Linked DNA regions of Homo sapiens: region 1 is linked to region 2. The links come from fine-mapping of genetic effects on gene expression. A gene starts in region 2. The other region holds a variant in brackets. All regions are shown on one strand. Distances are between the middles of the regions. Region 1 overlaps ATG14 (autophagy related 14). Region 2 holds the start of ATG14 (autophagy related 14).

The links. PIP is the estimated chance that this variant, and not a neighbour inherited with it, causes the effect.
Region 1: its variant is the best candidate, but not a certain one, in a credible set for the expression of ATG14 in whole blood (TOPMed, PIP 0.57).

Annotation. Positions count from the first base shown.
Region 1 is chr14:55,389,414-55,394,413 of GRCh38, reverse strand. ATG14 (autophagy related 14) reads left to right here. Exons shown (of 10, transcript NM_014924.5): 4 at 3,422-3,503. It also overlaps a transcript of FBXO34 not described here and the pseudogene HMGN1P1. Among named protein-coding and RNA genes, the nearest start is that of ATG14, 20 kb to the left of the region's middle. The variant G/A (reference allele first, on the strand shown) is at 2,835.
Region 2 is chr14:55,409,685-55,415,210 of GRCh38, reverse strand. ATG14 (autophagy related 14) reads left to right here and starts at 3,381. Exons shown (of 10, transcript NM_014924.5): 1 at 3,381-3,609. The coding sequence starts at 3,389. It overlaps TBPL2 (TATA-box binding protein like 2), which reads left to right. Exons shown (of 7, transcript NM_199047.3): 7 at 756-1,001. The coding sequence ends at 832. It also overlaps a transcript of FBXO34 not described here and the pseudogene RPL21P6. RefSeq lists a silencer at 3,092-3,391.

The sequences.
Region 1 (5,000 bases), 21 kb after region 2:
ATGGCTTTTAGATTTTGGGTATGTATATTAAGAATTGGGTACAAATTGAAATGTCTGTGTACTGATCTTCAACACAACCAGTGAAATCTCAATTATGAAGGAAAAAAAGGGCCAGGCACGTTGGCTCATGCCTATAATCCCAGCACTTTGGGAGGCTGAGGCAAGTGGATCACAAGGTCAGGAGTTCGAGACCAGCCTGACCAACATGGTGAAACCCCATCTGTACTAAAAATAGAAAAATTAGCTGGGCATGGTGGCACACGCCTGTAATCCCAGCTACTCAGGAGGCTGTGGCAGGAGAATCACTTGAACCCAGGAGACAGAGATCACAGTGAGCCGAGATTGCGCCACTGTACTCCAGCCTGGGCGACAGAGCAACACTCCATCTCAAAAAAAAAAAAAAAAAAATTATGATACTGTGTAGTTGTTAAAAAGAATGTGGTCAGTCTACGTGCTGTGGAATGATGTCCAAGTTGTATTTATTAATGGAAAAAAATAATAAACTAGGATAAAGTATGATTTCATTTATGTATTTTAAATATAAATATACTCTTATAAAATCTGCGCTGGGTGTGGTGGTGGATGCCCTGTAATCCCAGCACTTTGGGAGTCCGAGGTGGATTGCTCAAGCCCAGGAATTGAAAACCAGCCTGGGAAACATGGCAAAACCCCATATCTACAAAAACGAACAAAAACCAAAAATTAGCCAGGCATGGTAGTATATACCTGTAGTCCCAGCTACTTGGGAGGTTGAGGTGGGAGGATCACTTGAGCCAGGGAGGTCAGGCTGAAGTGAGCTGTAATCACACCACCATACTCTAACCTGGGCAACAGAGTGAGACCCTGACTCAAAAAAAAAAAAAAATCTGAAAAGATACACATTAAACTTTAATTTTAAAGGATTACCCCTGAGAAATGGGAAGGAGTCAGGCTAACAGTCACATTTTCTGTTTTTCTTCTGTAATGTGTAATTTTTTTTCACAACAGTAAACATTATTCATATATTTCTTTTTTTTTCCTCTTTTTTTTGAGACAGAGTCTCGCTCTGTCACCCAGGCTGGAGTGCAGTGGCGCGATCTCGGCTCACTGCAACCTCCACCTCCTGGGTTCACACCATTCTCCTGCCTCAGCCTCCCGAGTAGCTGGGACTACAGGCGCCCACCACCACGCCCGGCTAAGTTTTTTTGTGTTTTTTTAGTAGAGACGGGGTTTCACCGTGTTAGCCAGGATGGTCTCAATCTCCTGACCTCGTGATCCGCCCACCTTGGCCTCCCAAAGTGCTGGGATTACAGGCGTGAGCCACCGCGCCCAGTCATATATTTCATTATACTTAAAATTTGTGATAGAAGTGAATTTTGCTTATTCTCTGAATGTTTTAGTAAACAAAACATGTTCTGTGGAAGATTTTCCTGAGTTTTCTGTAATGTTTCTAGTTTTTCTATCTAAGACTTCAATATTCATTTCTAAAGACTCTGTTACCTTTTAAAATTGAGGATAGGTCATATCTGATATATTTCTGAACCCCTCAGTCCCTGTGGATCTGTTTTTGAATGTCTGACTCTATTCGAGATGTTAGAGTTTCGCTCACCATAACATCCCTGTAATCTGTTCTGTGTCTCTTACCATCAGACTACTTAGATAAGTGTAACACCATGAACATTTGAGCATTGTTTTAAGCTTTTAATTATTCACTTTACGGAGTCATTAGAGAATAATCATTCTTTTTAACTAACTAGTAGATCCTTCTTTTTTTTTTTTTTTTTTTGAGGTGGAGTCTTGCTATATCACCCAGGCTGGAGTGCCGTGGCACAATCTTGGCTCACTGCAACCTCTGCCTCCTGGGCTCAAGCGATTCTCCCACCTCAGTCTCCCTGGTAGCTGGGACTATAGATGCATGTCACCACACCTGGCTAATTTTTTGTATTTTTGGTAGAGATGGGGTTTCGCCATGTTGCCCAGGCTGGCCTCGAACTCCTGAGCTCAAGTGATGTGCCTGCCTCAGCTTCCCAAAGTCTAGGATTACAGGTGTGAGTCACTGCACCCGGCCATAGATCCTATTTTTATTGATCCTTTGTTCACTTTAAGGCAGGGGTCCCCAACCCCCAGGCCACATATACCTACTGGGCTGTGGCCTGTTAGGAAACAGGCCATACAGCAGGAGGTGAGTAGGGCAAGTGAGCATTACCACCTGAGCTCCACCTCCTGTCAGATCAGTGGTGGCATTAGTTTCCATAGGAGTGCGAACTCTATTATGGACTGCACATGCGAGGGATCTAGGTTGTGCACTCCTATGAGACTCTAAAGCCTGATGATCTGAGGTGGGACAGATTCATTCCTGTAAATCATCTGCCACCCTGTCCGTGGAAAAATTGTCTTCCACAAAACTGGTCCCTGGTGCCAAAAAAGTTGGGGACCACTGCTTTAGGGGGTGCTGAACCTAACTCCTGGTAATATAAAGAGTCAATTTCATGTTTCATATAATTTTCTGAGGCTTTTCAGGAAATCTTACTTGAGTTATGCACTGAAAAAATAATGTTTTTTGCCATTTTTATTAACTTGCAAGTACTAGTTGCTTATTGGGTGAGATGACTTGGTTATGTTAACCGTCTCCTCAGTAACCAGAACTAGAGGTTTGGAGCTGCACGTCAGTAGGACTTTGCGTGATGATGCTTGAGTTCTGTATCTGCGCTGTCCAGTCCATTAGCCACTAGCCATATGTGATGTCAAACATTTGACATGAGGGTGGTGTGAGTAAGGAACTGAATTTTTGATTTTGTATGATTTAAATTGAGTTTTAAGTAACCACATGTGGCTAGTAGCTATATAGCTAGAGC[G/A]GGTTTAGAGAATGTCCTTCAACTTTTTTCTCTTTGCTTACTGATACATACAAAACTATGTGAATTTCTTTCTCGTAATTTCCCTTTCCTTTTTTTTTTTTTTTTTTTATGGAGTCTCACTCAGTTGCCAGGCTGGACTGCAGTGGCGTGATCTCGGCTCACTGCAAACTCCGCCTCCCTGGTTCAAGTGATTGTCCTGCCGCAGCCTCCCGAGTAGCTGGGATTACAGGCATGCGCCACCACGCCCAGCTAATTTTTGTATTTTTTTAGTAGAGATGGGGTTTCACCATGTTGGCCAGGATGGTCTTGATCTCCTAACCTCTTGATCTGCCCTCCTTGGCCTCCCAAAGTGCTGCGATTACAGGCGTGAGCCACCGCACTGGCCTAATTTCTCTTTTCTCTGCATTGAACTAGAAAAACATCGTTCTCTTTTTCGTAATGTTCCATAGTTACAAAAGCTATAACATAAGGTCTTTTTCTTCATTATGTTTTCTGACATATCTGAAAATAAGCAGTGATCCCAGGTAGATAATCATATTAACCATAAGAGACCAACGTTTGTGATATTTATTACATGCTTTTTTCAGAGATGGAAAATAATGTCCTGCAAGATGAGGATTGAACAGTTAAAACAAACAATATGTAAAGGAAATGAAGAAATGGAGAAAAGTAAGTAATTCGTGTCCTTCCTTCCAGCCCTAGAAAGTGCCTATGTGGAATTTCATGGGATTAATAAACTAGAGGGACACAGAAAGGAAGGGGATGGTGGGGCAGTGGCAACTTGGAGAATTTTACTACTCGCCCTCATCTTTCCTTGTAAAACATTTGTATAAGGAATTTTTAAAAGTTAAATACACAATTTCAGAGGCCTTAAATAACCAGATTCTTTTCTCAATTAAAAAAGTTAGGCGCCAGGCGTGGTAGCTCACGCCTGTAATCCCAGCACTTTGGGAGGCTGAGGCAGGCGGATCACAAGGTCAGGAGATCGAGACCATCCTGACTAACATGGTGAAACTCCGTCTCTACTAAATACAAAAACTTAGCTGGGTGTGGTGGCGGGTGCCTGTAGTCCCAGCTACTTGGGAGGCTGAGGCAGGAGAATGGTGTGAACCCAGGAGGCAGAGCTTGCAGTGAGCTGAGATTGCGCCACTGCACTCCAGCCTGGGCACAGAGCCAGACTCTGTCTCAAAAGAAAAAAATAAAAAAGTTGGCCAGGCACGGTGGCTTATGCCTGTAATCCCAGCACTTTGGGAGGCCGAGGGGAGTGGATCACCTGAGGTCAGGAGTTTGAGACCAGCCTGGCCAACATGGTGAAACCCCATCTCTACTAAAAATACAAAAATTAGCCGGGCGTGGTGGCAGGCACCTGTAATCCCAGCTACTCAGGAGGCTGAGGCAGGAGACTTGCTTGAACCTGGGAGGCGGAGATTGCGGTGAGCTGAGATCGTGCCATTGCACTCCAGCCTAGGCAACAAGAGCAAAACTCTGTCTCAAAAAAAAAAGTTAAGGAATGTATGTTCCCATTTGCCTTGGCTAGCAGGAAGCTCAGAGTCTTAACTTGGTACTCACTTGTAATAATTATTGGCCCATGCCAGAAGCACAGAATATTGTTTTTTTTTTCCCTTAGTGAGTCTCCACATTGTAATCTGTATTAATCTTACATCATATTTGTACACTTTATACTTTATCATAGATCGTTGTCAAAATGAATTCTCTTAGAAGTCCTACATCCTTAAGCCACTTCCCATTTGCCCCAAGAATACTCGTTTCTAATCCTAATGTAACATCATATACATTTCTATTACATTAGGATTAGAGACAAGTTCTGTTTAGAAATAACTCCAAGAGCAGTTTTTATATTTTATTTTCACATTGAAAATCAGATTTACTTCAGACTCAAAGAGCATGTTTATGTAACATTAAATGAGTGCCGGCAGCAAGCTGCAGTCCATGAATTTCTGAAGATCACTGTTTAAAGTTTAGAATGAGTCACCATCAGACCTCGTGAATCCCTTTTTCTTGTCTACTCATTGCTTCCAGAAGCAAGTCTTTTATAGTGGCATGTAATGGTGTAAAGCTTCCATTGAAAACATTTGTCCTAATAAAGTGCTCACGTGGAGTTTCACGGGATTACTAAACTAGAGAATTAGGGCAGCACACTGAACA
Region 2 (5,526 bases):
GTGTCCTGATTAGCTGAAGCTCCATATAAATATAAGTAGTACAAGTACATGACCCTTAGCACAACGTGCCTGCATAATTTGGAAGCTGGAGGTAATGGTGGTGTTTGGTTGTTGGTGAGAGATGAGTAGGGACTAATACTTCTCAATGGTGGAGACTGTTTGATTCATGTTTTTATCCCTGTAATTCCTACAGCAGTTATGATTTACAATTTCTTGAAACAAGACTTTACGAGTGACAGTAGTACAGTTTTCCCCTCTAATAATCCCTTCCCATGCACTAAAATTTAAAACTCTTTTAAATTTAGAATTTTAAACTAAAATTTAAAACAAATTTAAAGCTCATTTGTCTCCATCTGTTATCAATATTAGGGAATCAAGATGTTAACTAGAGAGGACGTGGATCAAAAGAAGTCCCTTTTGCTGGTAGCTAAGTGCCCGCAGGTGCTGATGAAATTACTCTGAGGCCATATTCATGGCACATGTAGAGATAACATTCCACATTTCATACTGAGCACTGTGTGAGCAAAGATGACACCCACAGAGAAGTTCTAGAAAACTCTGCTCTAAGGTTTCTGTCTTGTGGAAATATGGCTGTAGTTGCCAAATTATTTACCCGGAATAAATGCCATTTCTCAGGTACAGCTAAAGAGATGTCATATTAAAAGTAATTGGAGACAATACAATGAAATTTTAGTGTTTAAGTAAATGTTGGTATTTTTATATTAAAAATTATATAAACCTGGATTTCTTTATAGGTGCCAAAGAACGTTCTGAGATCTATGAAGCATTTGAAAACATCTATCCTATTCTAAAAGGTTTTAAAAAAGCCTGAGCATATCATTCAGCATCTCACATTATTCTGGTTTGAATATGTCCATAAGCCCAGCACAGAAACAGCTGGATTCTTCTACGTTTAATTGTAGATGTTACAAGTACGTTACTTATTAAAGGGCGACTCTGTGTAAGTAACCTAAGAAACGAAGAAAAATTCTTATTCAAAATGACTCCTTTTGTGTTATTTTAAAAACTGAACAAGTAAACATTTCAAAATTTGAGAGATTTAGGGTCTCACTAGAATGATATTGTAGCATCATGAAGACTCAATGCGTTTCCTTTTAGCCGGAAGGGCCATCTTCCAGTAATTTGCCAAAATGACGAACACAAAGGGAAAGAGGTGAGGCACCTGATACATGTTCTCTAGGCCTTTTAGAAAAGATGGAGTTGTTCCTTTGGCCACATACATGCGAATCTACGAAAAAGGTGATATTGTAGACATCAAGGGAATGGCTGCTTTTCAAAAAGGAGTGCTCCGCAAATGTTACCACAGCAAAGCTGGAAGAGTCTACAGTGTTACCCAGCATGCTGTTGGCATTGTAAACAAGGGCAAGATTTTTGCCAAGAGAATGAATGTGCTTACTGAGCCAGGCTGGTCTTGAACTCCTGACCTCAGTTGATCCATCTGCCTGGGCCTTGGCACTCTAAGAGCCAAGTAAGTTTCCTGAAACGCGTGAAGGTAAATAATCAGAAAAAGACGTCAAAGGGAGAGGTGTCTGAGTTCAACTGAAGCGCCAGCCTGCTCCACCCAGACAAGCACTTAGAACCAATGGAGGGAGCCTGGGCTGCTGGAACCTATTCCCTATGAGTTCATGGCATAATAGGTGTCAAAAAAAATTCTGAACTGTACAAATGTTTCTCTTCATTGAGAAGTGTGGCGCCGCCCCCTCCCCTTAAAGAAATATTTAAACTACATTTTGTATCCAAAAACCTCAGTGCTCTGCTGTTAAGTAATACATTAATATGCGTTCTCTGAAAATATATAGCAACATATAGGAGTTTCAAATAACTGCATAAGCTAGATACTATCTGTGATATCATCTAGCACGATAGGAATTAATGTGTATTTTTTGCCTTTTAAAATATTGAACAGTTGATCCTGATCATTAGGTATTAAGCACTGTGAAGGATCCTGTCTGAATACAAATGAAACATAAGCCCGAGACCTTAAAAAATAATCCTTTTGTTTGAAATGATCAGAGAGAAAGACTTCTCACTTAAAAATAAATCTTAAACTTTCAGGAACCATTCAAGTTTAGTGTAAACTGTATTCTGAATATAGAGAATTTTTGCTTTTGCTTGTTTTTGTAATCCTACGTGATTTGTATTTAAAAAGACTGGGTAAGATTAAGAAGACGGAGGAGCAAAGGGCTCAGATTCAAGACCTAATTAGCTTGTAGAATCACCAGTTTTCGATGGTGATGTGGAGATTAACAGGGAGGGACGGGCTAATATGAATCATGGCTCTTGGCTGTAAATCATCAGTGATTACGTCCTTTACCAAAGTAAGAAAACAGGTTTGTAGGGAGGCAGAAGTCAGTTTCCAACACTTTGAGTTTGTGGTGTCCTGGAATGTCACCTGATACCTAGTAAGTAGTTCTGGATCTTTGGGTATGGAACTTGAGAAAGGAATCCTGGCTAGAGAGAGAATTCAGGGCAGTTTATCAGTAGATAGCCTAGTAAAATCATCCTTGAGAATCACTGGTCTATTTAATCTCACCTATAAACTCACTTTTCTCTGTAGTTTAGAGGCATATTCAAACACTAATTACTCTGATATGATCCTCCCAACACATCACCTTATATATCCCCTATCCACCAAAAGAAACTTGAAGGGAAGTCCTAACCATCTACCTAGTTCAAATTCTCTTAGAGCATGGCCCAGGGTAGGGAAGGTACGTTAGCCACGTGATTAACTTTTCAGAAGGATACAATTCTGATTTTGCACGTTCACTTTGGTTGTTTTCACTATTGGTAAAGTATAATACTATTAACCATATTAATCCTCACGGCATTAGATGGGTACTATAATTCTATCCATTTAACACGAGAGAACAGGCGCAGAGAGATTAAGGAACTTGCCCCAAGTCACACAGCTATTAAGCAGGTGAGTGAGCCAAAATTCAACCTAGTTCCAAGACCCAGCCCCTTCACCCTACTTTGTTTGCTGTAGTTTAGCCAGATTTTAAAGCATCCACAGCAAGTTAAATTCCCTTATTCCGCTCCCATTCCGTTTTCCCAGAATCCTTAGGGTATGGTATTACAATTTTCTGCACAAGTTTGAGGCTTTAACTCGTAGTCTTGGCCTGAGCCAGCAGATGACATTTTGTTTGGCCGACTAGCCCCTCTAATATAACTCTCCCCCTGCTTCGGGACCTGTTGCCCCTCAGCAGACCGGAAAAACAACAGTGCCCGGGACAGGAACACGCGGCGGCGGAGGGGTCCGGGGGCTCGCCGGCATCCCAGCCCCCCTTCCCCAGGCCCCTCCTCCTGGCCCAGAATGCACCCGGTTGAAAACAAAATCCCACGTGACTGGCTCTCCTCTCAGGCCATCATGGCGTCTCCCAGTGGGAAGGGAGCCCGGGCGCTGGAGGCTCCTGGCTGCGGGCCCCGGCCGCTCGCCCGGGACCTGGTGGACTCCGTGGACGATGCGGAGGGGCTGTACGTGGCTGTGGAGCGCTGCCCGCTGTGCAACACTACCCGCCGGCGGCTGACCTGCGCCAAATGCGTTCAGAGCGGCGATTTCGTCTACTTCGACGGCCGCGACCGGGAGAGGTACGGCGGCCGCCACGGCCCTATTGTTTCTTCTGCTGTGTGTCCTCCAGCCAGGCAGCCGAAGGCTGGAACCTGGGGCTCCCCGTCCGGGCACCAGATACCAGCGAGAGGAGCGAGAGAGAGGGAGTGTAGCTAGCTGCTCTGCACCGGAGCTTTGCTACCAGAGGACAGCGTAGGGGCCAGATGAGGGAAGGTCGCCGTTTCCCCATCACCCACCCAAGAGGAGTTTGACCCCACGGTGCTCTTGGTCACTGGGGAAAAAAGGAATAAGTGGTGACTCTCTGGAGAAGTTTTCCCGTTGCTGCCATTAAGTTAGATTCCCAGCTCTTTGCTGTATGTACTCCCATTCAAAAGCTTGGCTTTCTATTTTCGAAAGCATATTTATACTCATTCTCTAGAGGAGAGAGTAGAAGAGAATCAAATAACTGCTTTAGAGGGATTTGGGCCTGGTAGTCTGTCACAGATGGACTTTGTTATCAGACATGCTTACTCTAATGTGTGAATTGAGGCTTGCTGTTAACGCCCCTTTCCCCTCCCTGCCTCTAAAGATTATTTTAGATTCTTAGGAATTTGGGAACGTGTTTTGGCCTTGTTTTAAAATTCAGATTGGGAGCTGCATGCTTTTAGTTAAGAGAATTGCCTTTAGGAAAATGTTTTGGTTTCATTTCGAAATCTAAACAGCTACAAGTTCTTGGTTAAGAAAATTGAAAAATTAGTGTGATTAGCTGCAGGATCTCCCACTCTCAACTTATGTTTCAACAATTTAGTGTCAATGATAGTCAATGATAGTAAGATAGCTAGCATTCTGAGCACAAAAATTCAGGTATTAATTCATTCGCAACAACCGAATGACTTATCCCCAACTTATTAGGAAGCTGCACAGTAAGTGCTTTGCCCCAGGTCACACAAATAGTTAAGTGTTGGTACAAGAATTAAAATTCAGACAGCTTGGACCTATGTACCCGCACTTAACCACTAGACTTTATATCCTCTATATTTGGGAATGTTTTGAGTTCTTAGTATTTCTGTGATCGTGGATGGAGTTCTTTCCTTTCTCTTTTGAGGAGGTTTGAATGACAAACTCTTTTTTAGTTTTGTTGCTGTGTCTTATTGGTGCTCTTGATGACTTTAGAAACTGCTTATGTAGTAAGTGATAGCTTTAAAAATTAAACCAGTTATAAGAATACGGGGTATGAGATGGAAATGTCTAACTGATGGAGTGAATCGAGGATTTGGTTCTGGACCTTCTTGTCTGTCTACACGTTTTACTATGTCTATTCACATAATTTAAATACCATCTATATGCTTAAGACTGCCAGACTTGTATCTCCAACCTAGTCTTCTCTAAAGTCCAGAAAACAGCTGCTTATTCAACATCAATATTTTTAGATTTGTAATAGATATCTTCATTTTAATATGGCAAACTGAACTCCTTGTTTTCCATCATAAATCTGTTTTCCCATGCTCATCCCAACCCAGTAAATGTCAATCTCATTGTTCCTTTGGTTCAGGCTAAAAAACCTTTCAGTTCTCCTTGACTCCTCTCTTAACCCAACTCTGTTTAGTCCCATCAACAAATCCCATCTACTCTTCAAAACTTATCTTACAACAAATCCCATCTACTCTTCAAAACTTATCTTAAATCTTACCCTTTCACCATCACCTGGTCCAATCTACCAGAGACATAAACTTATTTCCTCTTATGTCTCTGCTTCCGTCCTTGCTCCCCTTTTGTACAATTTCCATATTGCAGCCACAGTTATGCTACTCCTCCATTTCTGTTCAAATCTTCCAGTGGTTTTTCACTTTACCCAAAGTAAAAGCTGGAGTCCTTAACCAAAGTTCTATATTATCTGTTCCTCTGATTTAATCTCCTATTATTTTCTCCCTTACCTAATCTGCTGTGCCACTGTGGCC